Homo sapiens: one gene and its partners. The protein of the gene in region 1 interacts with the protein of each later gene in a biochemical or structural test. Each region holds a gene or a part of one and is shown in the gene's direction. Other genes may lie near its edges.

What was found.
Region 2: the proteins of PDLIM1 (region 1) and JAM2 interact in a test that uses a peptide from one of them, tested with the Homo sapiens proteins (one large-scale study listed by IntAct).
Region 3: the proteins of PDLIM1 (region 1) and TMEM225B interact in a test that uses a peptide from one of them, tested with the Homo sapiens proteins (one large-scale study listed by IntAct).
Region 4: the proteins of PDLIM1 (region 1) and MUC3A interact in a test that uses a peptide from one of them, tested with the Homo sapiens proteins (one large-scale study listed by IntAct).
Region 5: the proteins of PDLIM1 (region 1) and TYRO3 interact in a test that uses a peptide from one of them, tested with the Homo sapiens proteins (one large-scale study listed by IntAct).
Region 6: the proteins of PDLIM1 (region 1) and SLC2A7 interact in a test that uses a peptide from one of them, tested with the Homo sapiens proteins (one large-scale study listed by IntAct).
Region 7: the proteins of PDLIM1 (region 1) and SLCO1B1 interact in a test that uses a peptide from one of them, tested with the Homo sapiens proteins (one large-scale study listed by IntAct).

Annotation. Positions count from the first base shown.
Region 1 is NC_000010.11:95,260,004-95,263,503, reverse strand, and holds part of PDLIM1 (PDZ and LIM domain protein 1), read left to right. Parts: intron 1-3,500. UniProt on the Homo sapiens protein: Cytoskeletal protein that may act as an adapter that brings other proteins (like kinases) to the cytoskeleton. Involved in assembly, disassembly and directioning of stress fibers in fibroblasts.
Region 2 is NC_000021.9:25,712,258-25,715,159, forward strand, and holds part of JAM2 (junctional adhesion molecule B isoform 1 precursor), read left to right. Parts: intron 1-82; coding exon 83-125; intron 126-1,973; coding exon of another isoform or gene 1,974-2,048; exon of another isoform or gene 2,049-2,317; intron 2,318-2,382; coding exon 2,383-2,415; 3' UTR 2,416-2,902. UniProt on the Homo sapiens protein: Junctional adhesion protein that mediates heterotypic cell-cell interactions with its cognate receptor JAM3 to regulate different cellular processes. Plays a role in homing and mobilization of hematopoietic stem and progenitor cells within the bone marrow.
Region 3 is NC_000007.14:99,604,767-99,608,266, forward strand, and holds part of TMEM225B (transmembrane protein 225B), read left to right. Parts: intron 1-1,981; coding exon 1,982-2,128; intron 2,129-2,906; coding exon 2,907-3,044; intron 3,045-3,500.
Region 4 is NC_000007.14:100,948,276-100,952,333, forward strand, and holds the start of MUC3A (mucin-3A precursor), read left to right. Parts: upstream 1-1,258; 5' UTR 1,259-1,349; coding exon 1,350-1,410; intron 1,411-3,565; coding exon 3,566-4,058.
Region 5 is NC_000015.10:41,565,712-41,569,211, forward strand, and holds part of TYRO3 (tyrosine-protein kinase receptor TYRO3 isoform 1 precursor), read left to right. Parts: intron 1-1,648; coding exon 1,649-1,826; intron 1,827-2,505; coding exon 2,506-2,651; intron 2,652-3,166; coding exon 3,167-3,311; intron 3,312-3,500. UniProt on the Homo sapiens protein: Receptor tyrosine kinase that transduces signals from the extracellular matrix into the cytoplasm by binding to several ligands including TULP1 or GAS6. Regulates many physiological processes including cell survival, migration and differentiation.
Region 6 is NC_000001.11:9,002,473-9,005,948, reverse strand, and holds the end of SLC2A7 (solute carrier family 2, facilitated glucose transporter member 7), read left to right. Parts: intron 1-1,069; coding exon 1,070-1,197; intron 1,198-2,430; coding exon 2,431-2,649; 3' UTR 2,650-2,976; downstream 2,977-3,476. UniProt on the Homo sapiens protein: Probable sugar transporter. Even if its physiological substrate is subject to discussion, it is able to transport glucose and fructose. Does not transport galactose, 2-deoxy-d-glucose and xylose.
Region 7 is NC_000012.12:21,129,704-21,133,993, forward strand, and holds the start of SLCO1B1 (solute carrier organic anion transporter family member 1B1), read left to right. Parts: upstream 1-1,490; 5' UTR 1,491-1,533; intron 1,534-4,290. UniProt on the Homo sapiens protein: Mediates the Na(+)-independent uptake of organic anions.

The DNA of each region.
Region 1 (3,500 bases):
TTATTAGTCGGGGAGTGTTTGAGGGAATCTAGAGTAGCCTGTGCTTATGTCCACCATCTGAACTAAGCAAGGGAGAAATACTTCATGCTGCATAGTTTTGGTGAAGCAGTGTTTGCTTTTTCCCTAGAGTGGACCAGAGGTCATGAAAGAAGAGAGGTCCCTGAGGATATAAATGCTTGTCCTAGGAATAGGTTCTGATCTGGGGACAGAGGCAGGCTTAACTGGGGGAGAGGTAGGGCTGCAGGTGGAAAGGGGAGAGGTGTCTGAGGAAGTGCCTTGCTGGGGACTGAGGAGGCATGTCCTCTTCTGTCACAGATCATCTGGCTGCAGCTGCCTTTGAGTCTTTTTTTTTTTTTTTTGAGACAAGCTTTCGCTCTGTCACCCAGGCTGGAGTACAGTGGTTTGATCACAGCTCACTGCAGCCTCGACCTCCTGGGTTCAAGTGATCCTCCCACCTCAGCCTCCTGAGTAGCTGGTACTACAGGTGTGTGCCACCACACTTGGCTAAGTTTTACTTTTTTTTGTAGAGATTGGGGTCTCACTGTGTTGCCCAGGCTGGTCTCGAACTCCTGGGCCCAAGTGATCCTCCCACCTCAGACTCCCAAATTTCCGGGATTACAGGCATGAGCCACCAAGCCCTTTGAGTCTTTATTGGAGTCTCCTGGATCTTGCCAGCAGAGGGGCCCAGTGTCTGCTCCATCTCAGGCTCTTTGAGGATGAATCCAGAAACACTGGGAATCCCAGCAAAGGAACTGGGTTTGAGGATGGGTTAAAGATGGGGCCAATTCTCTGTAGGTGTAAAGTGGGTGGACTAGGTTAGGAATTGCCCACTCAAATACCCAAAAGTGGCAGGCAGGATGAGGAACTGAGGCAGAGCTCTGAGTAAACAAGGGTGCTGGGTGGGGGTGGGGGTGGCAGCTGGAGCGTGCATTCCTGGTCCGGAGGGGACGCTGCTCCTTGGCTCCAGCCACGTGCCTCATGCAGGTCTCATTTCTGCTAATTATTTCCATTAAAACAGAAGTTGGAAAGCCTCTTTTTTTCGGAAATCTCCTGATTTTTAATTATTGGTGACATTTAAATTTTGTTGGAAAACACTGTGTGGTCCAAACTTGCCTTAGCTCTGAGAACCTTTCTCACTTGGAATCATCAATTTTTGTATTGCCTCTGAAGCCCGCTTTGCCATTCAGTTTCTCCCCAATTCACCTTTAACAAGAACCTGCTCAACTCTTAGGGTAATTAAATTGCAAACCAATGGCTTCAAATGCAGGTTGAGAGAGGTTAAGATACTAGAGGTTCCAAACTACTTAAATGTTTGGAAAGGGCTGTTGTAGCAACACCTCTCAAGGGCTCCTTGGGCATTCCTTGCATATAGTCACCCCTCCCCTCCCCAGAGAGAGACAGATGTCATTGGACACCCATGACATGTGCATCCCTGTTCCCTGTGCCTGACACTGAGAGGACACTAAGATTTCTTTCTTTCTTTTTTTTTTTTTTTGAGACGGAGTTTCACTCTTGTTGCCTAGGCTAGAGTGCAATGGAGTGATCTCTGCTCACCACAACCTCCGCCTCCCGGGTTCAAGCGATTCTTCTGCATCAGCCTCCCGAGTAGCTGGGATTACAGGCATGCGCCACCACGCCCGGATAATTTTGTGTTTTTAGTATAGATGGGGTTTCTCCATGTTGATCAGGCTGGTCTCAAACTCCCGACCTCAGGTGATCTGCCTGCCTCGGCCTCCCAAAGTGCTGGGCTTACAGACGTGAGCCACTGCGCCCAGCTGACACTAAGATTTCTTTTAACATTTCTTTGAGTCTGGTAGGGCAGACTTTTTTCTGTGTGACTTTGGCTTTAGAAGATGTTAAAGGTTACTGGCCATTTATCATAGTAACCAAGGCAGTCTCCACCAATGTTTCTTCTTCCCTCAAATTCTGGTTCTTGCAAGGGCTTACTGGCTTGAGATGATGATTCTCTTCCAGGCGACTGTGGGGACATTTGAGATACCTGAGAAACGGTGTCATACTGGTCCCCCTAGGCTTTCCACAGACACACCCTGAGAGGAAGCTTCCAAGCAGCTCAGGAGTGGTGGAAACACTGGGGGCCTGTGATCCCTGTTTTTAGCTGCTTTGGTGCTGGGGAGGCTGAGAACATGACCCTCTTTTACTGTCCCAGAGTGGAATATTCCATGATCTGGACTTAGTAACCCAGGAAATGACACATCCTTAATTGAAAGAGCTGCTATGCATTGGGAGAAATATGTGCCTGGGAAATATTTTTAGTATGGCCTTGGCTATTTTTCCTTCATTAATGTCTCTCTTCTCTCATGTTCCCTGCCTGCTCCCTCCTCTGAGTCTGAAACTACCAGGTGGCTGTTTAAGCCTTTCCTCTAGCCCCTGGCCCAGACTCTTTGGCTGCAGTAGTTGCCGAGTATCAAAATTTGTCTCTTTGCAGATTTTCTCAGCAGAGAGGGTCCTGTTTCTGTTCCACCCCGCACTCTTTGAGGCTGAACCCAGAAACAGTGGGAAAACCAACAGCCTAAGGCAGAGGAGCTGCCTAACTGGCCATGCTGCTTGTATGGGGGGATCTCAGCTTGCTGGTGTATTTCTAGTGCATTCCCACAAAGAAAGATTCTCCTGTGAGCCCAGCAGTCACCTGGTAACTTTGCTTGCTCAGTCAGCACAAGTCCCAAGTGCTCGCTCCCTCCCACTGTTTAGTCTGTGAAATTCGCTGAAGTTCCAGAATTGGCTCACTACATACTTTGCATCTGAGGTCATCACCCATTCTCTGGGGCTTGCCCTGGATTTCTTTGTCCTATGCACTTGAAAGTATTGTGGTGTGTCTGTTGCTATCTGTCTTGTAGGTCTTTACAGAGCTGTGTCCCAGTCAGATAAGAACAGAGATAGCCTTGCCAACTGGTAAGGCAGGTGAGGGGGTTTCTCTGCTGCCCTTCCTCCCAGTGCACACAGTGGAGGGGGAGGTCCTCAGTGGCCTTTTTCCTCTAGGTCAGTTCAGCATAATCATTTATTGAGTGCCTACTGTGTACCAGGTGGGCGAAGAAAATGTCAGTTCAGCAGAAAGCTAGCACCTTTCCTCTGTTCTCTTTTAATTGAGTTGAGGGGACCCTGGTCAAAATCAGAAAATTCAGAGCCCAGATTTCATTGTTTATATGATACTGCCTGATACTTCCTAAAGGCTTGGTAGATAGAGGGGCCTGAGCCTTGAATTCCAGCTCTGCCTCTTACTAGCTGTGTGACCTTGGGAAAACCATGTAACATCTCTGAAACTCAGTCTCCTGAGATCTAAGGTGGAAATAATACTAACTTCTTTACCACCAGGTTGTTGAGACAATGCAATGGGATGTGCACAGAGCACTCAGCACAGTGCCTGGCCCCTGGTAGGTGCTCACTAAATGCTAATTATTGCTAACTTTAGTTTCCATGAGGAACTCCATCCCCATCACTTCTGAGAACTGGGGGCTACAGAAGTGTGGAAGCACATAGACAAA
Region 2 (2,902 bases), on another chromosome or scaffold:
GTAAAATTAACTAAAAGAGCATATATGTTCCAGATTGGAAGTGATAATGTAGTAAATATTGTCTTTTATATTCCACAAACAGGAAGAGTAATTCTTCATCTAAAGCCACGACAATGAGTGAAAATGTGAGTATCTTTAAAGCATATTTATAGAATGAATATGTTTGGGGAATAGGGCAGGGAAATGAAGTAATTATATGGACTTTGTGAATTTTCACTTTTAATACACTTTGCACCAGTGTCTATCACTGGTGTTTAAAAGGAGCTAAGTAGATGTTAGCTTCTGTACCCTGTCTAGGATGGCATGATAAAGATACCTGGCATTTCCAATAGCAGAAGTGATCTTTAATCATATCATTATTTGTTTCATGGTATTTTCTATAATTAGTCTGCCTTCTTAGTATCACTAGGTCTGGCATTATCAGCTCCCTTTGACAGATGAGTAAATTAAAACACAGGTTCTTACAGGGTAACAGTGGTGGAGCTGGGACCCAGGCTCTTTTCTTCCCTGTAGCTTGACCAAGCAGAGTGGTTCCAGCAGAGCTGTGGTTCTAGGACTCACCTTTGGTTATGTGAAGCACTTGGAACATTTTAGGGCTATGCAATGTCTTAGTCATTTGGGCTGCTATAACAAAAATACCATACACTGGGTAATTTACAAACAACAAATTTATTTTCAGTTTTGGAGGCCAGGAAGTCCACAATCAAGGCACCAGTAGACTCAATGTCTAGTGAGAGCCTGTTCCTCATAGATGGAGACTTCCTGCTGTGTCCTCACATAGTAGCAGGGGCAAAACAAGCACCCTCTGGCCTCTTTGGTACGGGCACTAGCTCCATTCATGAAGGTCCTGCCCTCATCACCTAATCACCTCCTAAAGGCCCCACCTCTTAATAGTATTGCATTAGGGATTAGGTTTCAACATATGAATTTTGGGTGACACAAACATTCAGACCAGAGCACAGAATATCCTGTTATAATTGAAAGGAACATTTCAGAAATGTTTGAAAAGACGCAGTAATTACCTAACTCAGAGGTTTTAAGGAACATAATTTAGACACTTGGACCCTTTGTAAACACTACATTGATGCAGCAAATACCATTGTTACTCAGATTTTGTAGCTCTTTGGATGGATATTCAGCCTTCTGGATGATTTTCTCAGGAATATAGTGGGTTGGGGCAGGGGGAGTTCCTATGGTTTTAGAGGCCTAAGTCGTTTCTTGAGAAACAAAGCATGGGTTCTCAGAAATGCTTTACTCATCTATGGCAGGAATTCTGTCAGATTTCTTCTCAGTAGAGTCTGGGGGGTGGGGTGGGGCGGGGGAGCCTGGACATCAGTATTTTAAATGCTTACCCACTTTTCTGTAAAAATTTGATTTTCAAAAACTGTTCCAGAAACTATTACAGAATTCACCTTATTTTGTGGTTTACTACACTGAAAGCTTACTGATGTTTAATTAGGGGACAAGAAACTTTGTTCCCACCATTTTTGTGCCTACAATTTATGGAAAGTCTTTGTTTCTGCAATTTACAGAAAGTACTCTTGGAGTGTGGAATCGAATACTCCCATCCCTCCAAACAGTATGAAGCACATTGTGGCTAAACTGAATGAACAAAAGCCATTTATTTTTTCTTTGCCTTCCTCTCAGTTGCCCTTATCAACTAACAGCTAGAGTCCCCTTCAGTTCTCTTGTGCCCTACCACAGGGTTTCTCAACCTCAGCACTACTGATATTTTGGGCCACATCATTCTTTGGTGTAAGGTGCTGTCCTGTACATCATAGGATGTGTAGCCACAGGCCTGGCCTCCAACACCAGATGCCGGGGCATCCTCCTAACAGGATTTGTCTGCCTCTGCCTTCCAGTCCTACCTCTTTACTCTCTAGGCAAAGCTTCAGAGTACCTTGTCTGCTAGGAGTTAGTTAGTTAATTCCCCATAAAACAAGTTTAATTAAATATATACTGGTTTTGGCCAGGTGCAGTGGCTCACGCCTGTAATCCCAGCACTTTGGAAGGCCGCGGCGGGCGGATCACGAGGTCAGGAGTTCTAGACCAGTCTGGCCAATATGGTGAAACCCCATCTCTACTAAAATACAAAAATTAGCTGGGCATGGTGGCATGTGCCTGCAGTTCCAGCTGCTTGGGAGACAGGAGAATCACTTGAACCCGGGAGGCGGAGGTTGCAGTGAGCTGAGATCACGCCACTGCAGTCCAGCCTGGGTAACAGAGCAAGATTCCATCTCAAAAAATAAAATAAATAAATAAATAAATACTGGTTTTTACCTGTAGAATTCTTACAATAAATATAGCTTGATATTCATAAGATTTATGTTTCTTTAAATATGAATTCATATATTTAAACCTGTTTTTTCTTTCTTTTCCTAGGATTTCAAGCACACAAAATCCTTTATAATTTAAAGACTCCACTTTAGAGATACACCAAAGCCACCGTTGTTACACAAGTTATTAAACTATTATAAAACTCTGCTTTGTCCGACATTTGCAAAGAGGTACACGAGGAAATGGAATTGGTATTTCATTTTAATTTTCATGACTACTAACTCACCTGAACTTGCTATTTTAAACAAATAGTTCTGTCGACACCTAAAATATAATCTGGCTTCTTGTGTCTGGACTAAGTTAAAAGAATTAAAATACTTTGTAATGTCCTGGGCTTTGGGAAATGTTAACCACGTCCTAACTTCTAGAGAACGTTACTAAAATATAACATACTGATTGTGAAGTCAATCCACAGGTCATGAAAATATAAATCAGACTCTGCACGAGAGTCTGATTTAGGGGGTCCAACAAATACTCTGACAGATGCAAAAGGAACCTCTGGTCTCATTTCTGCCAGAATCCTCTTTTCTCCCCTAATATCATCCTTATTCTGATGCTCGTTCAT
Region 3 (3,500 bases), on another chromosome or scaffold:
GAGGATTGCTTGAGGCCAGGAGTTCAAGACCAGCCTGGGCAACATAGCCAAACCCTGTTGCTACAAAAATGAGAAAATTAGCTGAGCATGGTGGCATGTGCCTGTAGTCCCAGCTACTCAAAAGGCTGAGGTTGGAGGGCTCCTGCTTGAGCCCAGAAGTTCGAGGCTGCAGTGAGCTGTGATCATGCCACTGCATTCCAGCCTGGGAGTGAGAGTGAGGCCCTGTCTCAAAACAACAACAACAACAACAACAACAACAACAACAACAAAACACAAAAAATTAACCAGGCTTGGTTAACCCAAGGGTAGACTCTGGGATATCTGGGGCTTCAACAGCAACTTTGACTCCTTATCCCACTGCCAGCTGCCCACCTCTGCCAGCTCAGGAGGGTATGCAAACTCATTTTCACATGGGTCTGCATCATGCCAGCAGTCAGAGAACAAATCACCCTGTTATCAGACTCTGGCTCTGCTAATTTTGGTCTATTTCACTACTTCTGTTATTGTTGTTGCTTTTACAGATGGGGACTCACTCTGTTGCCCAGGCTGAAGTGCAGTGGCGTGATCATGGCTCACTGCAGCCTCCAACTCCTGAGTTCAAGCGATCCTCCCGCCTCAGCCTTCTGAGTAGTTGGGACTACCTGTGCTCACCATAGCTCCCAGCTAATTTTTTAATTTTATGTTTTGTAAAAAACAGGATCTCGCTTTGTCACCCAGGCTGGTGTGATCACAGCTCACTGCAGCCTCCAACTCTTGAGTTCAAGCGATCCTCCCACCTTAGCCTCCTGAGTAGTTGGGACTACAGGTGCGCACCACAGCTCCCAGCTAATTTTTTAATTTTAGGTTTTGTAAAAACAGGATCTCGCTCTGTTGCCCAGGCTGGTGTGATCATAGCTCACTGCAGCCTCCATCTCCTCAGCTCAAGTGATCCTCCTGCCTCAGCCTCCCAAGTAGCGGGGACTACAGGTGTGCCCCACCGTGCCCAACTTTTTAAAATTTCTTGTAGAGATGGGGTCTTACTATGTGGCCCAGGCTGGTCTCCAACTCCTGGCCTCAGGCAATCCTCCCACGTCAGCCTCCCAAAGTGTTGAGATTACAGGCGTGAACCATTGCACCCAGTCTCACTCCTATTAACTAGGAAAATTAAATAAAGATGTGGGGATTCCCTCAGCGTTCAGAACATTTTGACCTCACAAAGTTTTGATTTTCCACAGGCGAATTACTTCAGGGTAACCAATACAGGTGTGATTCTTCACATTTGCATGTGCAACAAATTTTATCACAAGAGTTTGATTTTGTGTTGCTTTTTAAAACCACCATTTTCCCCTAGTGGATGATACATGGTTTGGTACAACCAAATTCCCATAATAACATTTGTTAAGGCCAGGCACGGTGGCTCACGCCTGTCATCCCAGCGCGTTGAGAGGCCAAAATGGGAGGATCGCTGGAGCCCAGGAGGTTGAGGCTGCAGTGAGCTATGATGGTGCCACTGCACTCTAGCTTGGGCGACAGAGCAAGACCCTGTTTCTACAAAACATAAAAATAAAAAAATTAGCCAGGTGTGGTGGTACATGCCTGTGGTCCCAGCTACTCTGGAGGCTGAGGCAGGAGGATTGCTTGAGCCTGTGAAGTCGAAGTTACAGTGAGCTGAGATTGCACCACCACACTCCAGCTGGGGCGATAGAGGGAGACCCTGTTTCAAAAAAAGAAAAAATATGTTTATTAAGAACTGGTGATTTCAGTGTCTGACATTGTCAATTTAATTTTTTTTCCTATATTTCTATGCCATTGGGAATCAAATTGTGGGGCCAAAGCATTCTTGGGGCCAAAGTGGCATGGTCACAACCTTGGTCCCAAGGCCATGCTTTGGGATCTAAGGGTGGTGGAGGCTCCGGGGGCCAGCCCTGCCCAGGCTCTGAGGGACTCTGACCTTTCCGGGTCAGGGTTCCCAGCTTCAGCCCCACTTCTCCCTCCCCTGCAGTTTACATCATCCTCGGCCGGGTTTTCCTGCTCTCTGCAGTTTTCTTGGCTTTCGTCACCACCTTCATCATGATGCCCTTTGCATCCGAGTTCTTCCCGAGGACCTGGAAGCAAAACTTTGTGTTAGCCTGCATCAGCTTCTTCACAGGTGTGGAACAGCTAGGTGATCCCTGACCTTCGCTAGGGCCTGGGGAGGAGTCCAGAGAAAGAGGGGTGCTCAGTCTCTGTGATGTCAAAAGAGGCATAATTTTTCTTTTTAGGGACAGGGTCTCACTCTGTTACCCAGGCTGGAGTGCAGTGGTGCTATCATAGCTCACTGCAGCCTTAACCTCCCAGGCTAAAGTGATCCTCCCACCTCAGCCTCCCAAGTAGATGGGACTCTAGGCATGTGCCACCATTCCTGGCTAATTTAAACATTTTTTTTTTTGGTAGAGATGGGGATCTCGCTATGTTGCCCAGGCTGGCCTTGAACTCCTGGTGTCAAGCGGTCCTCCTGCCTCAGCCTCCCAATTGCTGAGATTACAGGCATGAACCACTGCACCTGGCCCCTTTTGACATTTATAAAGGGTGACCCAGGCTCCACCCTGAGAGGCTCCTAGGCAAATGGTGGAGGTAGAGCAGTAGGAAAATGGGATTGCATTTAATCCAAAGTGTTGCACCCTCTGCTAAGGTGCAGAGGTGAGCTAAGGGCAGATGCAGAGGGTGCTAGGAAAGGGAGTTCTGATGATGGTTCCCTGGAAGGTAAAGCACATGGGCTTTGAAGATGAGTCAGAAAGGAGGGAGGGACAGGCATCTGGGTAGGAGTTTTGTTTCAGAGAGGGGGCAAGGATGAAGGAGCCTCCAGGCAGGAGCCACAGGGGGTGAAGTTTGGAGGGAAGGCGGGTAGCATGGGAGGAGACCGAGGGTGTCTCCCTGTGACCCTCCAGGGGCCTGTGCCTTCCTGGCTTTGGTGCTGCATGCCCTGGAGATCAAGGCTCTGAGGATGAAGCTCGGCCCCCTGCAGTTCTCCGTGCTGTGGCCTTACTACGTGCTGGGCTTCGGCATCTTTCTGTTCATAGTGGCTGGTGAGTGTCCAGGGAACAGTGCCCTGCTTCTTGTCCTCGGTCTGGATTTAGGAACCTGTCTTGTGGAGGCCCTCCCTTTGGATTCTCTAGAATTGCACTGTTCCAAACCGCAGCTGCCAGTTAGACGTGGCTATTTAACTTTCGTTAATTAAAATAGTTATTGGCCAGATGTGGTGGTTCACACCTGTAATTCCAGTGCTTCGGGAGGCCGAGATGGGTGGATCACTTGAGGCCAGGAGTTTGAGACCAGCCTGGCCAACATGGTGAAACCCCATCTCTACTAAAAATACAAAAATTAGCTGGGCGTGATGGCACATGTCTGCAATCCCAGCTACTCGGGAGGTTGAGGCAGGAGAATCGCTTGAACCCAGGAGGCAGAGGTTGCAGTGAGCCGAGATCACATCACTGCACTCCAGCCTGGGTGACAGAGCAAAACTCCATCTCTAAAATAAAATA
Region 4 (4,058 bases), on another chromosome or scaffold:
TAAAATTTTAATAGATGCCACCAAATTACCCCTTTAAAGCAACCCAACCCACCTACACACCCACCAGCTGGATAAGAACATTTGTTTTACTTTATCTTGTTTTTGAAATGAAGTGTCGCTCTGTTGCCCAGGCTGGAGTGCAGAGGCACGATCTCAGCTCATTGCAACCTCTGCCTCTGGGGTTCAAGCAATTCTCCTGCCTCAGCCTCCCAAGTAGGTGGGATTACAGGTGCCCACCCCACGCCAGGCTAATTTTTGTATTTTTAGTAGAGATGGGGTTTCACTATGTTGGCCAGTCTAGTCTCGAACCCCTGACCTCAAGTGATCCTCAAATTACTCTTTTAAAACAACCCAACCCACCTACACATCCACCAGCTGGGTAAGAACGTTTATTCTTCACACCTTTGCCCAAACTGGATAGGTCAAACAATGTGCTGGGTCCAAACCAGTTTTTTTTTTTTTTTTTTTTTTTTGAGATGGAGTCTCGCTCTGTTGCTCAGGCTGGAGTGTAGTGGTGTGCTCTTGGCTCACTGCACCCTCCACCTTCTGGTTTCAAGCGATTTTTCTGCCTCAGCCTATTAGTAGAGATGGGGTTTTGCCATTTTGCCCAGGCTGGTCTCGAACTCGTGACCTCAAGTGATCCACACCCCTCAGCCTTGCAAAGTGCTGGGAATACAGGCGTGAGCCACCGCGCCGGGCCCAGACTAGTATTTTTGAGTGTTTCCTTTGGTCATCCATGTTTCCTTTTCTGGGACCTAGCCCCAACTCTTCAGATAATAAAATGACTTCAGATGGAATTCTGTGTTAATTACTCCCACGGTTTTTTCTGGCCTATGGGGTCCTGCGGGGGACAGGATGGAGCAGGGGCAGACTGAGGGACAGAAGGGGCTTGAAGGAGAGCGAGGTGCCACTGTCTCCCCAGCAGGAGGAATTGAAACTCAGGAGAGGCTGCAGGAGTAGGACCAGACTCCAGAGTCCAAGCCCTCGGTCAAGGGTACCCTCCACGGGTGTCGGGGAGGAAGGGCAGCTTCCAGGCAGTTCCATGTGGGCCAGGCAGGCTGTGGGGCTGAGCCAATAGCAGCTCTTCCTGCCTGACACTTCCTGGACTTGTCCTATCTTTTTCCCCCGTGTCCCGCTTCCCACAGCGCTGACGTCTGTCTGTCCGGGTGCAGGGAGAAGGGAGGAAGAGGGGAGAGGTGGGGCGGTGCAAAGGTGAGGCTGTGCTCAGCCCTGACGCTCAGCAAAACCGATAACCAGCACTTTCATTACGTGCACGCCCCAGGGCCACGTCCCTGCCGCTGTCTTGGTCCTGAAGCCTGTTCTGCCCCAGCCCCCTGCCCGCTGGGCCCATGCAGCTGTTGGGGCTCCTCGGCCTCCTCTGGATGCTCAAGGCCTCCCCGTGGGCCACAGGTAAGGGGGAGAGGCGGAAGGGGGTTGGAGAAAAGCTCCTGATGTGATGTTCCAGGAAAGGGGAGGGAAAAGTGGCTGTAAGGCCTGGGGAGGGGGGATAAGAAGGCACCGCTTGGGGCTCTGGGTGCAGGGAGAACCGAGGCACGGCCTGACTGGGGGAGGGGGCGGTGAGGAGAGGTTTCTTCCAGAGCTCCAGGTGCAGGGAAAACCGAGGTTGGGAAAGAGTGAGGGAGCTGGGTCTCTGCCACTCTCCACCAAGCACTGAGCAGGTTGCAGCGGCTGAGCCCCAATCTGTATCTGCAGCTGGAGGGTAGAGGGTGGGATTTACGTCTTCCCAGAGCAGTGCCCTTCCTGTCTTGACTCCTTCTGTCACCTGCCTCACGCCCCCAGCTTGAGTGTCCCCTTCACACTGGCCTCTCCCTCCCTGACAGCCCTCTAACTTCTACCCCTGGTCTCGGTCCTCTGGTTTCAGCCTCTCTGCCTTTTGTCCCCCGGCGGCTCCTCCCCAGCTCTGCCGTCACTCTCTTACCCCGGCCAGGGCCCATGTGTCTGGGTACAGCTGTTGGTACCAGGGCCGGGGCAGGGAGCTCCTGATGTCCACTTCGCTTCCAAGGGTGCGTCTGAGACTACCCGTCGTGGGGTCCCAGGCTTCTCTCTTCTGCCCTGCAGGAACACCTCGCAATTCCTCTATACTTCTCTTTTCTCTGTACTTCAGTGTCTGCTTCTGATCCCCGATCCCAGGCCACCCAGCCTACAGGCCCATGAGTCCCCTTCTCAGTCACCTCCAGGGCCACATCCTGGAGCCAAGGGCTGTAGCCTGGGGATTCTCATAATCCCTGACCCCACTTCCCTGGCACCCACGAGCTAGGTTGAGACGTGACACCCCAGCTCTCAGCCACAAGATGGGCTGTGCCCGAGGTGAGGGGTAGCAGGTCGGGTACCTCCCACTTCCCATCTGCTGTGGCTGCCTGTCTTCCTTGTCCCTGACACCCCCGACAGCCGGATCTCTGATCCTAACTCTGACAAATTGTGAAATGGGTTGAAATCCACATGCTGGGGTTCATGCTTGTAAACTAATGAATCCCACGGCCAAAAGGGAATAGTATAGAAAAATATGTCTATTTGTGTGATGAACACTCACTGCTAAGCCTTAAGGTCTCCAGAACTCATCACGCCTGACTGCTGAGGTAGCTCCTTCTGGAAGTTTCCTTTTCTATGCTGTCTCTCTGCCTCTTCACCTAGTCCTCACTCCATGCCCTTTGAAGTCATTAGTGTGTGAGCTTAGCCTGTTTCTCTTTGGTGTTCTCTGGGCAGTTTTTTGTTTTTGTTTTTGTTTTTGTTTTTGATGGAGTCTTGCTCTGTCACCCAGGCTGGAGTGCAGTGGCACCATCTCAGCTCACTGCAGCCTCTGCTTCCTGGGTTCAAGCGATTCTCCTGCCTCAGCTACAGGTACACGCCACTACGCCTGGCTAATTTTTGTATTTTGTTTTAGTAGAGAAAGGGTTTCACCATGTTGGTCAGACTGGTCTCGAACTCCTGACCTCAAGTGATCTCCTGCCTTGGCCTTTCAAAGTGCTGGGATTACAGGCATGAGCCACCGTGCCTGGCCCTCTTTGTTCAGCTTTCCCTGTCTCCTGGTTTTTGTGATGCGCCCCCTGCCAGGACATGGCTGGGTTCTCTCTTTTTCTCTTTGAAAGCGGAGTCAGCCCAGACAGCAGCAGGGTGCCGGGAGAAGCAGTGGTGGGAGCAGAAGGTTAATGGGGGGATGGGAGCACTCCAGGCAGTAGCAGGGGGAGGAGAGGAAGGGGCAGAGGGAGGAGGAGCCTGGGTGTGACCAGAGGAGGGAAGGGAGGGGAGGGAGGCTCTGCCCAGCTCGGCTATATCAGGACAGGAGGACCTGCCATGACAAGGCCAAGGCCCGGTGAGGAATGAGGGCTCCCATGCCCCACTGCTCCCCTAGGAGCAGACAGGCAGTCGTCTCCAGCACCACAAAGCACCCAGCTCCAAGCTGCCTCTGATGCAGGAGTCAGCTGTAATATGCCCTGCCCTCTGTGATGCTGCCTGGAAAATGGGTGAGTGAGTAGCTTACATGAGTGATGTAACAAAATGACCCACGGATTTACCAGTGGATTCCTCTGCTCTGCCGCCAATGCAGGAACTTTATCCACGGCCACATCCATCTCTCAAGTGCCTTTCCCCAGAGCAGAAGCAGCCAGCGCTGTGCTCAGCAATTCTCCACACTCCAGAGACCTGGCTGGGTGGCCACTTGGTGTCCCCCAGCTCGCCTCTCCTGCTCCTGGCCACAGGGAAAATGCACCTATGACACTCACTACCTCCCCCCATGACACACTCATCTCTGAAACATTGCTCAACTCTCCAGTCAGTTCCAACACCTCAACCACCCCGACGTCCAAGTTTGCCTTCAAGGTTGAAACCACTCCACCCACCGTGTTGGTCTATTCAGCCACCACTGAGTGCGTGTATCCAACGAGCTTTATAATCACCATCTCCCACCCCACCTCCATCTGTGTGACCACGACGCAGGTGGCCTTCACCAGCTCTTACACCTCGACTCCCGTGACACAGAAGCCAGTGACCACCGTCACCAGTACTTACTCTATGACCACTACTGAGAAAGGAACGTCAGC
Region 5 (3,500 bases), on another chromosome or scaffold:
AACCAGCACACCCAGACGAGTTTTTCTTACTTAGGTGAAAGCTCAAACCTTTGCTGATACTCACCCTATCATGCTCCACCTTACCCCCCAACCCCCACTCAAGCCAAAGAGAACAAGATGACCAGAAGGGGCCCTAAGCCTTGGAGAGTGGAAAAACTGTGTAAGGTGATACTAAAAACAAGAGGCAATGCAGGCTTGCTCATTTTCATCCGTTTACTCAAAGGCCATTTAATGAGTACCTTTCAAAACTGTTCTGGGCAGTTCCCCTGGGCAGGAGGGGCCCCTGCTCTGGGCTCCACCATTTAGAGAACCCTACTGAGGTTGGGCACAGTGGCTTATGCCTGTAATCCCAGCACTTTGGGAGGTGGAGACGGGAGGATTGCTTGAGCCTGGGGGTTCAAGACCAGCCTGGGCAACATGGCAAAACCCTTTCTCTACAAAAAATACAAAAATTATCCAGGCACAGTGGCATGCGCCTGTACTTCTAACTATTCAGGAGGCTAGAGTGGGAGGATGACTTGAGCCTGAGAAGTCAAGCCTGCGGTGAGCCGAGATCATGCCACTGCACTCCAGCCTGAGTGAGTGACAGGGCAAGATCCTGTCTCTATTAAAAAAAAAAAAAAAAAAAAAAAAAAAAAGAGGATCCTACTCTGGCCCTCCTTTGGCCACACCCCTTTCCCCGGGGCAAAGAGCCTACAGGGCCAAGAGGATATGCCCATCCAGATGGCAAGGACCCCCTCACTGCCACACTATACTATAGCTATTCAGGATCTCTTGCCCTAATGGTTCTGAGTCTGCTTCTGGGGTCTGTGTGGGCCTTTTCCCTGTTCCATCTTCCCAAGGATGGACCGCAGTGTGATATGACCACCTCTAAGCCCAAGGGGCAGCCATTCGTGAGGGGGATGGGAATGGAGCTTGGATATGCAGTCAGCATTGTCCACGCCTGTGCACATGAGGCCCCTCATGGTGCAGACCTTGGCTTCAGGCCAGCTCTTCCAGTGCCTCCTCATTCTGACTCGGGACTCCAGGGATTTGGAGAGTTACAAATGCAAACCTGATCTCCCAGGTTGTTTTGAAGGTTTATTGGTCAAAATATTAAGAGAGAAACTATTTAATAGTTTGTTAGCTGATTTATAATGTTTAAATATTTAGACATATAGTACGTGGATCTCTTTGTACTCTTGCCCTGGGCCCCCAAAATGTAAGATGAAGGGCTGGTTCATAGTGCCCTAGGCTCCCAGTTTTCTCTGAGCTTCAGAAGCTCTAGAACTTTGGAGTGGCATGTAAACAGGCACAGTAAGTGGTAAGTATACCCTAAGAGTTTCGTACCAAGTACAAAAGGACAAGAGTTTTCTGGAGTGGTTGAGAAAGGCTTTCACCAAGAAAGTGATATTTGCACTGAGTCTTAAAGGATGAGTAGGCCTTTGCTAGGAAGAGCAGGTCATTCCAAGTGAAAGGAACAGCATTTGCAAAGGTATGAAGATGTGGAACCCTGTGTATTATTGGGGTGGGGGCAGATGGGAGGGCGTGGGTTGCAAGTGTTTGCTGATAGAGGAAGCATTCATTCAAGCACCCATAACTATACCCATCCCATCTTCCATCTCTCACAGGCTCTCCCCTACATCATTAGTTTTCTGCTTTTCTGTAGGTGACACAGGCCCCAGGAGGCTGGGAAGTCCTGGCTGTTGTGGTCCCTGTGCCCCCCTTTACCTGCCTGCTCCGGGACCTGGTGCCTGCCACCAACTACAGCCTCAGGGTGCGCTGTGCCAATGCCTTGGGGCCCTCTCCCTATGCTGACTGGGTGCCCTTTCAGACCAAGGGTCTAGGTAAGGGATGCATAGAGCAGAGCGGGTGGGCAGGGCTGGAGCCGGGAAGGGGGCCGTGTTGGCTGGAGTTCTGAATGGTGCTGGTAGAGATGGAGGTTCAGGCATCATTCGGCAAACATTTACTGCATATAACTACATACCACCTTGTAAGTAGTTCTTGTAGGTGGAACAGATAAGCAAACTGGAAAAGATCAGATAATGTGGTTGATAAAGAGTGTCCCCAGGTGGTTAAGGAAACCCCCCCTAAAAAGGTCTGAAGGATAAAGATCTGAAGGATCTGGGATCTGAACGATAAAGAAGAAGCCATGTAAATATCTGGGGGAAAATCACTGCCGGAAGAAGGCACAGCAAGTGCAAAGACCCTATGACAGGAACTTGCTTGGCAATTGCAAAGAGGCTGGCATAGCTGTGAGAGGGGAGTGGTAAGGGGTGAGGCAGAAAGGCAGTAACCATGGTGATGAAGAGCAACACTGCCGAGCTGGGGTGCTGCCTGTCCTGCCCATTGCTTACCCCTCCCCCAGCACAGTGGGTGAGAGCAGTCAGAGCTGGGAGGTGAACCCTTCCCCAGTTTGTGCCTCTCAGAGCTGTTTAGTTCTTGGGAGTTGATTCCAAAGGTCTGCATGGAATTATGATGGTGGGAAGGGCAGGGGTCTTAGCAATCTTCTCTCTTTGGCTGCAGCCCCAGCCAGCGCTCCCCAAAACCTCCATGCCATCCGCACAGATTCAGGCCTCATCTTGGAGTGGGAAGAAGTGATCCCCGAGGCCCCTTTGGAAGGCCCCCTGGGACCCTACAAACTGTCCTGGGTTCAAGACAATGGAACCCAGGTAAGACAGAACCCTCCCCTCTCTCCACTCTCCTGGAGTATAAGCCTTCAGGGTTCTAAGGCCTTTAAGAATTTCAAAATGATTGTCTTTGGTGGGCCTGGGTCTCCCGCAGCCCCAGGGAATCCTTTCCTCCTCACCCTCCTCTGCAAGCTCCACTTCTCAAAGGATTATGTCTCCTGTTAGGGTTGCATCCTGTGTGCACTTTGTAAATAAAGCAGGAAGCACATTCCTGCTTGAGCTGGGGGAGGGCACAGATAAGGCTTTGTCCCCAGCTCAGTTCGCTCCCATCCCCCACCTGTGCATTCCGGGACTGAGCCTTGTTTGTGTTCTGGAGAGGCCCCTGCAGCCGGGAACAGGAATGTGATTACTCCCAGAAGGTTGTGTTCCTGCAGCCCCTGAACCCACAGTGCCCCTATACTCCCATGTTCCCAGCTGGACCTTTTTCTGTCCTCAGGCCCCAGCTGGAGGCCTTCTCCCCAGGCTCACTATGGGGTGGGGGCTTTTCCTGGCTGCAGGATGAGCTGACAGTGGAGGGGACCAGGGCCAATTTGACAGGCTGGGATCCCCAAAAGGACCTGATCGTACGTGTGTGCGTCTCCAATGCAGTTGGCTGTGGACCCTGGAGTCAGCCACTGGTGGTCTCTTCTCATGACCGTGCAGGTGAGGCTTGTAGGTGGAGAGGGGCAGAGGCTCAGGGGATCAAGGTTTTCAAGGGCAACCTAGACTGATGGGAGGAGCCTAGTAGCATCTCCCCTCCTAGTAGACCCACAGACAGAGTGAAGAAGTTGAGGCCAGGGCTGTTTAAACTATCTTGGCTGGGCATGGTGGCTCATGCCTGTAATCCCAACA
Region 6 (3,476 bases), on another chromosome or scaffold:
TGGGGTCAGGGCCCTGGAGAAGGGGCCCGGGCCCCAAGTCACTGGGCTGCAGGAGTTTGCACTTGACATCCCAGCTTCATTCAGGGGCTTTGAATTCTTCTCCATGTCCATCCAGAGAGGGAGATCGGTCCTTTTCTTTTTTTCCTTCTTTTTTTTTTTTTTTTTTTGAGTTGGAGTCTCACTCTGTTGCCCAGGCTGGAGCGCAACCTCCATCTCCCGAGTTCAACAGATTATCCTGCTTCAGCCTCCTGAGTAGCTGGGACTACAGGCACACGCCACCATGCCGGACTAATTTTTATATTTTTAGTAGAGATGGGGTTTCATCATGTTGGCCAGGCCGGTCTCGAACTCCTGACCTCCAGTGATCTGTGAGACCGGACCTTTTCAATGAGGCCATTTCACCACCTAAGCGGGGGTGGGAAGCTTGGAGGAGGAGGGACAGAATCTTCCTCTTTCTTTGTGTAAAGCTACAGATATCTATATATGCAGGACCTAAACAGACGCACAGTATTAAAATTTCATGGGAGTGGCGATTAGGGAACAAAAATGGCTTTAGACATTTTAGACAAGGCTTCTTAAGGAAGCGATAATGAAAAACAGTTGTCCAAGAAGGTGTAGCCCTCAGGCCCTGCCATACCCAGATCCGCCATAGGAGGGCGGCACTTCCCAAGCGCGGGCGGTCTCAAGTCAGAGTGACGCCAGCGCAAAGGAAGCTCTTTCAGAAAGCTCTGCTGCCTGTGAGCTGGAGCCCACTCACTCCTGCTGCTCCCACGAAGCTTCCCATCCATTTACTTTCTGCAAACCTTCATGGAGCGTCATTGGCCTTGAAGAAGCAGCAATGGAAATTCAATTCCAGGCTCTCCAACCAGACTTTGCAAAGTGGATCTTTGCAGCTCCTGCTCTGATCACGCCCTGGTTTTGTGGGTAAAGGCAGGGTTCCTTTCCAGTCCCCAATCCCAGCTGGTACTCTTGAGGGTCCTAGGTCAGAGGCTAGAGTGGGCCGCGTCCCGCCAGCCCTGGGGGACACCTGGGTCCTTCTCCGCCCCACCCATCCTGCTCTGCCCTCCAGGTCCTGTCCCCTCGGTGGTGAGGACCGAGATCTTCCTGCAGTCCTCCCGGCGGGCAGCTTTCATGGTGGACGGGGCAGTGCACTGGCTCACCAACTTCATCATAGGCTTCCTGTTCCCATCCATCCAGGTGAGTGAGGGCCCCTTCCCCAACCCGCTCCACCGGGCCTCCAGGGAGTAAGATGTATTCCCCTTCCGCTAAGCACATCTGTGAATCCAGCAAGGTGGGGACAGGCTCTCAGACACATCCAAGGGTCCACAGACACACGTGGCCCCACTGCCTGCAAACCCTTGAAGACACCGGTTTCTCAGTTACTGAAGGGTGATCCCCTGCTGACATTGTAAAGGGCTATTGCTTAGGGGCTCTGGTCCGCGGAGCTCAAAGGCGCCAGCAAACAAAGCCAGAGCCAGGGTGCAGATCCCCCACCGCTTCCTTCCTCTGTTCCGAAGACAAGATGGGCCACAAACTCTGCGCTCTCAGCACCTTCAGGGCACAGAGGCCATAAACCCCTACTGTCAAAAGGTTAAGCAGTCTTTTTTTTTTTTTTTTAGACAGGGCCTTGCTCTGTCACCCAGGCTGGAATGCAGTGGTGCAACCACAGCTCATAGCAGCCTTGACCTCCCAGGCTTAAGTGATCCTCCTACCTCAGCCTCCCAAGTCGCTGGGACCACAGGCATGGGCCACCACACATGGCTATTTATTTATTTATGTATTTTAGGGATGGGGTCTTGCTATATTGCCCAGGCTGGTCTCAAACTTCGAAAGTGCTGGGATTATAGGTGTGAGCCACAGCACCCAACCAGATTCTTTTTGATAATAGGGTGAGGGGGAATCCAATTTCTAGCTTTTTTTTTTTTTTTCCTGCAAACAATCTTTAGTGATCACAGTTTTCTAGCTATATCATTCCTCCAGGAGTGAAACAAAACTGGCTGCCAAGCAACTCCTTTATGGACTCACAAAGGCCTCGACCAGCATTGGTTATTTGTTGTTTGTTTTGGGGTTTTTGTTTTTGTTTTTGTTTTTTTGAGACAGTCACGCTCTGTTGCCCAGGCTGGAGTGCAGTAGCGCGATCTTGGCTCACTGCAACCTCTACCTCCTGGGTTCAAGCGATTCTCCTGCCTCAGACTCCCAAGTAGCTGGGATTACAGGTGTACACCACCATGCTCAGCTAATTTTTGTATTTTTAATAGAGACAGGGTTTCATCATGTTGGCCAGGTTGGTCTCAAACTCCTGACCTCAGGTGATCCACCTGTCTTGGCCTCCCAAAGTGCTGGGATTACAGGCATGAGCCAACGTGCTCAGCTGAATCAGCACTGTTGCCTTTCTCTGCCCCCTCCTGTCTTTCTCGTCTCCTGGTCTAGGAGGCCATCGGTGCCTACAGTTTCATCATCTTTGCCGGAATCTGCCTCCTCACTGCGATTTACATCTACGTGGTTATTCCGGAGACCAAGGGCAAAACATTTGTGGAGATAAACCGCATTTTTGCCAAGAGAAACAGGGTGAAGCTTCCAGAGGAGAAAGAAGAAACCATTGATGCTGGGCCTCCCACAGCCTCTCCTGCCAAGGAAACTTCCTTTTAGTGGCCCTGCATGAAGGACGGGAGCCCATATTCAAGGCTTCCTTCTATGACAATGGGCCTCCCGGCCCCAGGCTCTGGGGAGGATAATAGCACGGAGGCTTTTGTCGTTGCCCCCATTTAACTTAATTATGGATATTATTAAATACCCACAACAATGCATATTTAGCTGAGAAGTTCCAAGGCTAGCCATTGAGGAATGACCTGGAGGAAGGGGCCGGCACGTGAATTTTGATTGGTTAAGACTCGATTTTCCGATTCTACATTGGCACCAAAATTTAAATGATGTATAGATGCACTTTTTTAAAGTAAAACTTTTCAAGTTCCACAATTGCTATGGATACCCGAGCTGCCGTCATTGCATCAATTAAGGAGTCCAAGGCTCTGAATGCCATTGCCTTCCTGGCGACGTGGCTTCCTTTCTCCACCCCGTGGCTGCAGGTTGCACCGTGAATCCCAGCCTGCGTGCCCAGCTCTGTCCTGTCGATCACAGGGTGAAGGGGGCCAGCCCCTCGACACCTGTGGGTATTTCTCGTCAGGTGGGATGAGAGACTGAAAAAAGAAATAAGACACAGAGACAAAGTATAGAGAAAGAACAGTGGGCCCAGGGGACCGGCGCTCAGCATACGGAGGACCCTCACCAGTACTGGTCTCTGAGTTCCCTCAGTATTTATTGATCACTATCTCTACTGTCTTGGTGAGGGGGATGTGGCAGGACTATAGAGTAATGGTGGGGAGAGGGTCAGCAGGAAAACATGTGAGCAAAGGCTCTGTGTCATAAATAAGTTTAAGGAAAGGTGCTGTGCCTTGATGTGCACATAGGCCAGAGTT
Region 7 (4,290 bases), on another chromosome or scaffold:
CTTTGACCTCTGAAAATATTGGAGAATTTTACAACTGGCACCTTTAGCTCAGGATTATAAAGGTTGTTAGTTAGTTTGTACTGTTTTATCTTCATTGTATATAATATATATATTAGTCTCCAAACATGTTGATGTGTTTTCAATGAAATGGATGTCTGAGGAGAAAACCATTAGCCTGAGAAAACCCAAACTGTATTCCCATTGTGAATAAAAGGAAGTCCATAAAAATGATGGAAAATGTTCTGCATTCCTGTTATGATATCAAAATCTGGCAGTACATGAAAATTTTTCAAAGTGCTTATTTAACAGGCATAATCTTTGGTCTCCTGAGCCAGAATCTGCTGGGTATGGGACTGGATTGCTATTTTGACAACTCGCCAGTAGATTCTTACTCAGCAGAGTATTTGGAAGCCTTACTCTAATATTTTGGCCTTGGGTCTACATTTCTCAGTTCTGCACAGTCATTCTTCCCCTCTACACTACTCTTTAGTTTGTCTCATGATTCCAATACTCTCAATAATTAACCAAGAATAGAACTAATCAATCAGATAACTGTGGCACAGACATCAAATACATTTTGCTGCAACCATATCAACAAATGTCCCATGAATGATAAGGGGTAACCATATTCTCATATATGCATCCTCACATTACCACATATATATATGTGCATATGTGTATACAGGTAAAAGTGTGTATATATGTATACATGTATGTTTGTGTGTATATACATACATATATCTTCACACTTTTCTGAAATATATATATTTATGTGAGAGAAGGGTCTGTACTTTATTTCAGAAGAGAGCTTAATGTCCAAGGTATAATTGAGAGTCTAAAATGTTTGAGTTATTGAATTAATTAAACTTCATCTCTACTCAAGAAAACTTTTAACTGAGTTAAGCTCTTCCTTTCTCCACAAGTCAAGTCAATAAAAGGAAACTGTGATATTAATAATTCTTTCCTGTTTTGATGTAAAGAATCTATCGCATAAAGCAGTCTTAATTTTCATCATTCAGAAAAATGGTCTTGCAGTTAATTGGGACTCTCTTATTCCAGGTGGTATCTCCAGTCTCCATACATACCACGTTAGAACCATACTTATGTACCAAGCAAAGAGGGTATATTTTAATTTTTAAATGCCAATGTAACCTGTAGGCATATTTTTTATTTGTCTTAAATTATTTCCTATTTGGAAGTTTTAAATACCTGGAATAATTTATTGTACTCATATTTTTAAAGAAAAAAATCTTATGCCACCAACTTAATTGAATAAACAAGTAAAAGCCATTCCCAAAAGTAAGGTTTACTTGTTAAGATTAACAAAAAATAATGTGAGAATTCTGAGAAATATAATCTTTAAATATTGGCAACTGGAGTGAACTCTTAAAACTAACTAGGTTTTATATGTTTGACTAGAGCAATGACATAATAAGGTGGTTAATCATCACTGGACTTGTTTTCAAAAAGCCAACTACTTTAAGAGGAATAAAGGGTGGACTTGTTGCAGTTGCTGTAGGATTCTAAATCCAGGTAAGAACCATTGAGATTCTCTAATTTTTACATATATTTTATGTAAGAAATTTTCACGGAAGAAGATTTTGATGGTCTTGAAAAATATTACGAATTTTATGCTCTGTGTCTTCCACACGCTTACATTCTGAGCCCTTAAAACATAGTAAATATTCCTTCTGGGAGTAGAAGAGCCTCAGGTTTATATACTGTTAAAAATAAAGTAGAGAAAATAATACCTTTATATATTTAAATATAAAGTTTCAAATCTTGGTCTTATTAATTTCCAAACAAATAAAAATCAAGTCTCAAAAATGAAGCTCTAGTTACCTTCTTAAAATATGCTACAGGATAATTATTTTTGTCAACTACATTGACTGATCACACTAGACTCCTTATTTCTTTGATGTCTTCTTAACTGGATGAAGGCAGCCAAGGGTGGGAGTAGAGGGAAGAGTTAATTGGCAAACATAAAAAACAGGTGTCTCAAAGTCACATAACCACCTCAGTTTCCTTGTTTCAACTCAAGTTTGATACAGGGTGAAGGGAAATATATTTTCTAGATAATTTATCTCCAATTAAATAAGCAAAAAGTCTTCTCAGTACAGTTTTTTTCTTTTTTTATTTCATTATTATTATACTTTAAGTTTTAGGGTACATGTGCACAACATGCAGGTTTGTTACATATGTATACATGTGCCATGTTGGTGTGCTGCACCCATTAACTCATCATTTAACATTGGGCATATCTCCTAATGCTATCCCTCCCCTCTCCCCCACCCCACAACAGTCCCCGGTGTGTGATGTTCCCTTTCCTGTGTCCATGTGTTCTCATTGTTCAGTTCCCACCTATGAGTGAGAACATGCGGTGTTTGGTTTTTTGTCCTTGCGATAGTTTGTTGAGAATGATGGTTTCCAGTTTCATCCATGTCCCTACAAAGGACATAAACTCATCATTTTTATGGCTGCATAGTATTCCATGGTGTATGTGTGCCACATTTTCTTAATCCACTCTATCGTTGTTGGACATTTAGGTTGGTTCCAAGTCTTTGCTACTGTGAATAGTGCCGCTATAAACATACGTGTGCATGTGTCTTTATAGCAGCATGATTTATAATCCCTTGGGTATATATCCACTTATGGGATGGCTGGGTCAAATGGTATTTCCAGTTCTAGATCCCTGAGGAATCGCCACACTGTCTTCCACAATGGTTGAACTAGTTTACAGTCCCACCAACAGTGTAAAAGTGTTCCTATTTCTCCACATCCTCTCCAGCACCTGTTGTTTCCTGACTTTTTAATGATCGCTATTCTAACTGGTGTGAGATAGTATCTCATTGTGGTTTTGATTTGCATTTCTCTGATGGCCAGTGATGATGAGCATTTTTTCACGTGTTTTTTGGCTGCATAAATGTCTTCTGTTGAGAAGTGTCTGTTCATGTCCTTCACCCACTTCTTGATGGGGTCGTTTGTCTTTTGTAAATTTGTTTGAGTTCATTGTAGATTTTGGGTATTAGCCTTTTGTCAGATGAGTAGGTTGCAAAAATTTTCTCCCATTCTGTAGGTTGCCTGTTCACTCTGATGGTAGTTTCTTTTGCTGTGCAGAAGCTCTTTAGTTTAATTATATCTCATTTGTCATTTTTGGCTTTTGTTGCCATTGCTTTTGGTGTTTTAGACATGAAGTCCTTGCCCATGCCTATGTCCTGAATGGTATTGCCTAGGTTTTCTTCTAGGGTTTTTATGGTTTTAGGTCTAACATTTAAGTCTTTAATCCATCTTGAATTAATTTTTGTGTAAGGTGTAAGGAAGGGATCCAGTTTCAGCTTTCTACATATGGCTTGCCAGTTTTCCCAGCATCATTTATTAAATAGGGAATCCTTTCCCCATTGCTTGTTTTTCTCAGGTTTGTCAAAGATCAGATAGTTGTAGATATGCGGCACTATTTCTGAGGGCTCTGTTCTGTTCCATTGGTCTATATCTCTGTTTTGGTACCAGTACCATGCTGTTTTGGTTACTGTAGCCTTGTAGTATAGTTTGAAGTCAGGTAGGGTGATGCCTCCAGCTTTGTTCTTTTCGCTTAGGATTGACTTGGTATGCGGGCTCTTTTTTGGTTCCATATGAACTTTAAAGTAGTTTTTTCCAATTCTGTGAAGAAAGTCATTGGTAGCTTGATGGGGATGGCATTGAATCTATAAATTACCTTGGACAGTATGGCCATTTTCATGATATTGATTCTTCCTGCCCATGAGCATGGAATGTTCTTCTATTTGTTCGTATCCTCTTTTATTTCATTGAGCAGTGGTTTGTAGTTCTCCTTGAAGAGGTCCTTCACATCCCTTGTAAGTTGGATTCCTAGGTATTTTATTCTCTTTGAAGCAATTGTGAATGGGAGTTCACTCATGATTTGGCTCTCTGTTTGTCTGTTATTGGTGTATAAGAATGCTTGTGATTTTTATACATTGATTTTGTATTCTGAGACTTTGCTGAAGTTGCTTATCAACTTGAGGAAATTTTGGGCTGAGATGATGGGGTTTTCTAGATATACAATCATGTGATCTGCAAACAGGGACAATTTGACTTCCTCTTTTCCTAATTGAATACCCTTTATTTTCTTCTCCTGCCTGATTGCCCTGGCCAGAACTTCCAACATTATGTTGAATAGGAGCAGTGAGAGAGGGCATCCCTGTCTTGTGCCCGTTTTCAAAGGGAATGCTTCCAGTTTTTGCCCATTCAGTATCATATTGGCTGCAGGTTTGTCATAGATAGCTCTTATTATTT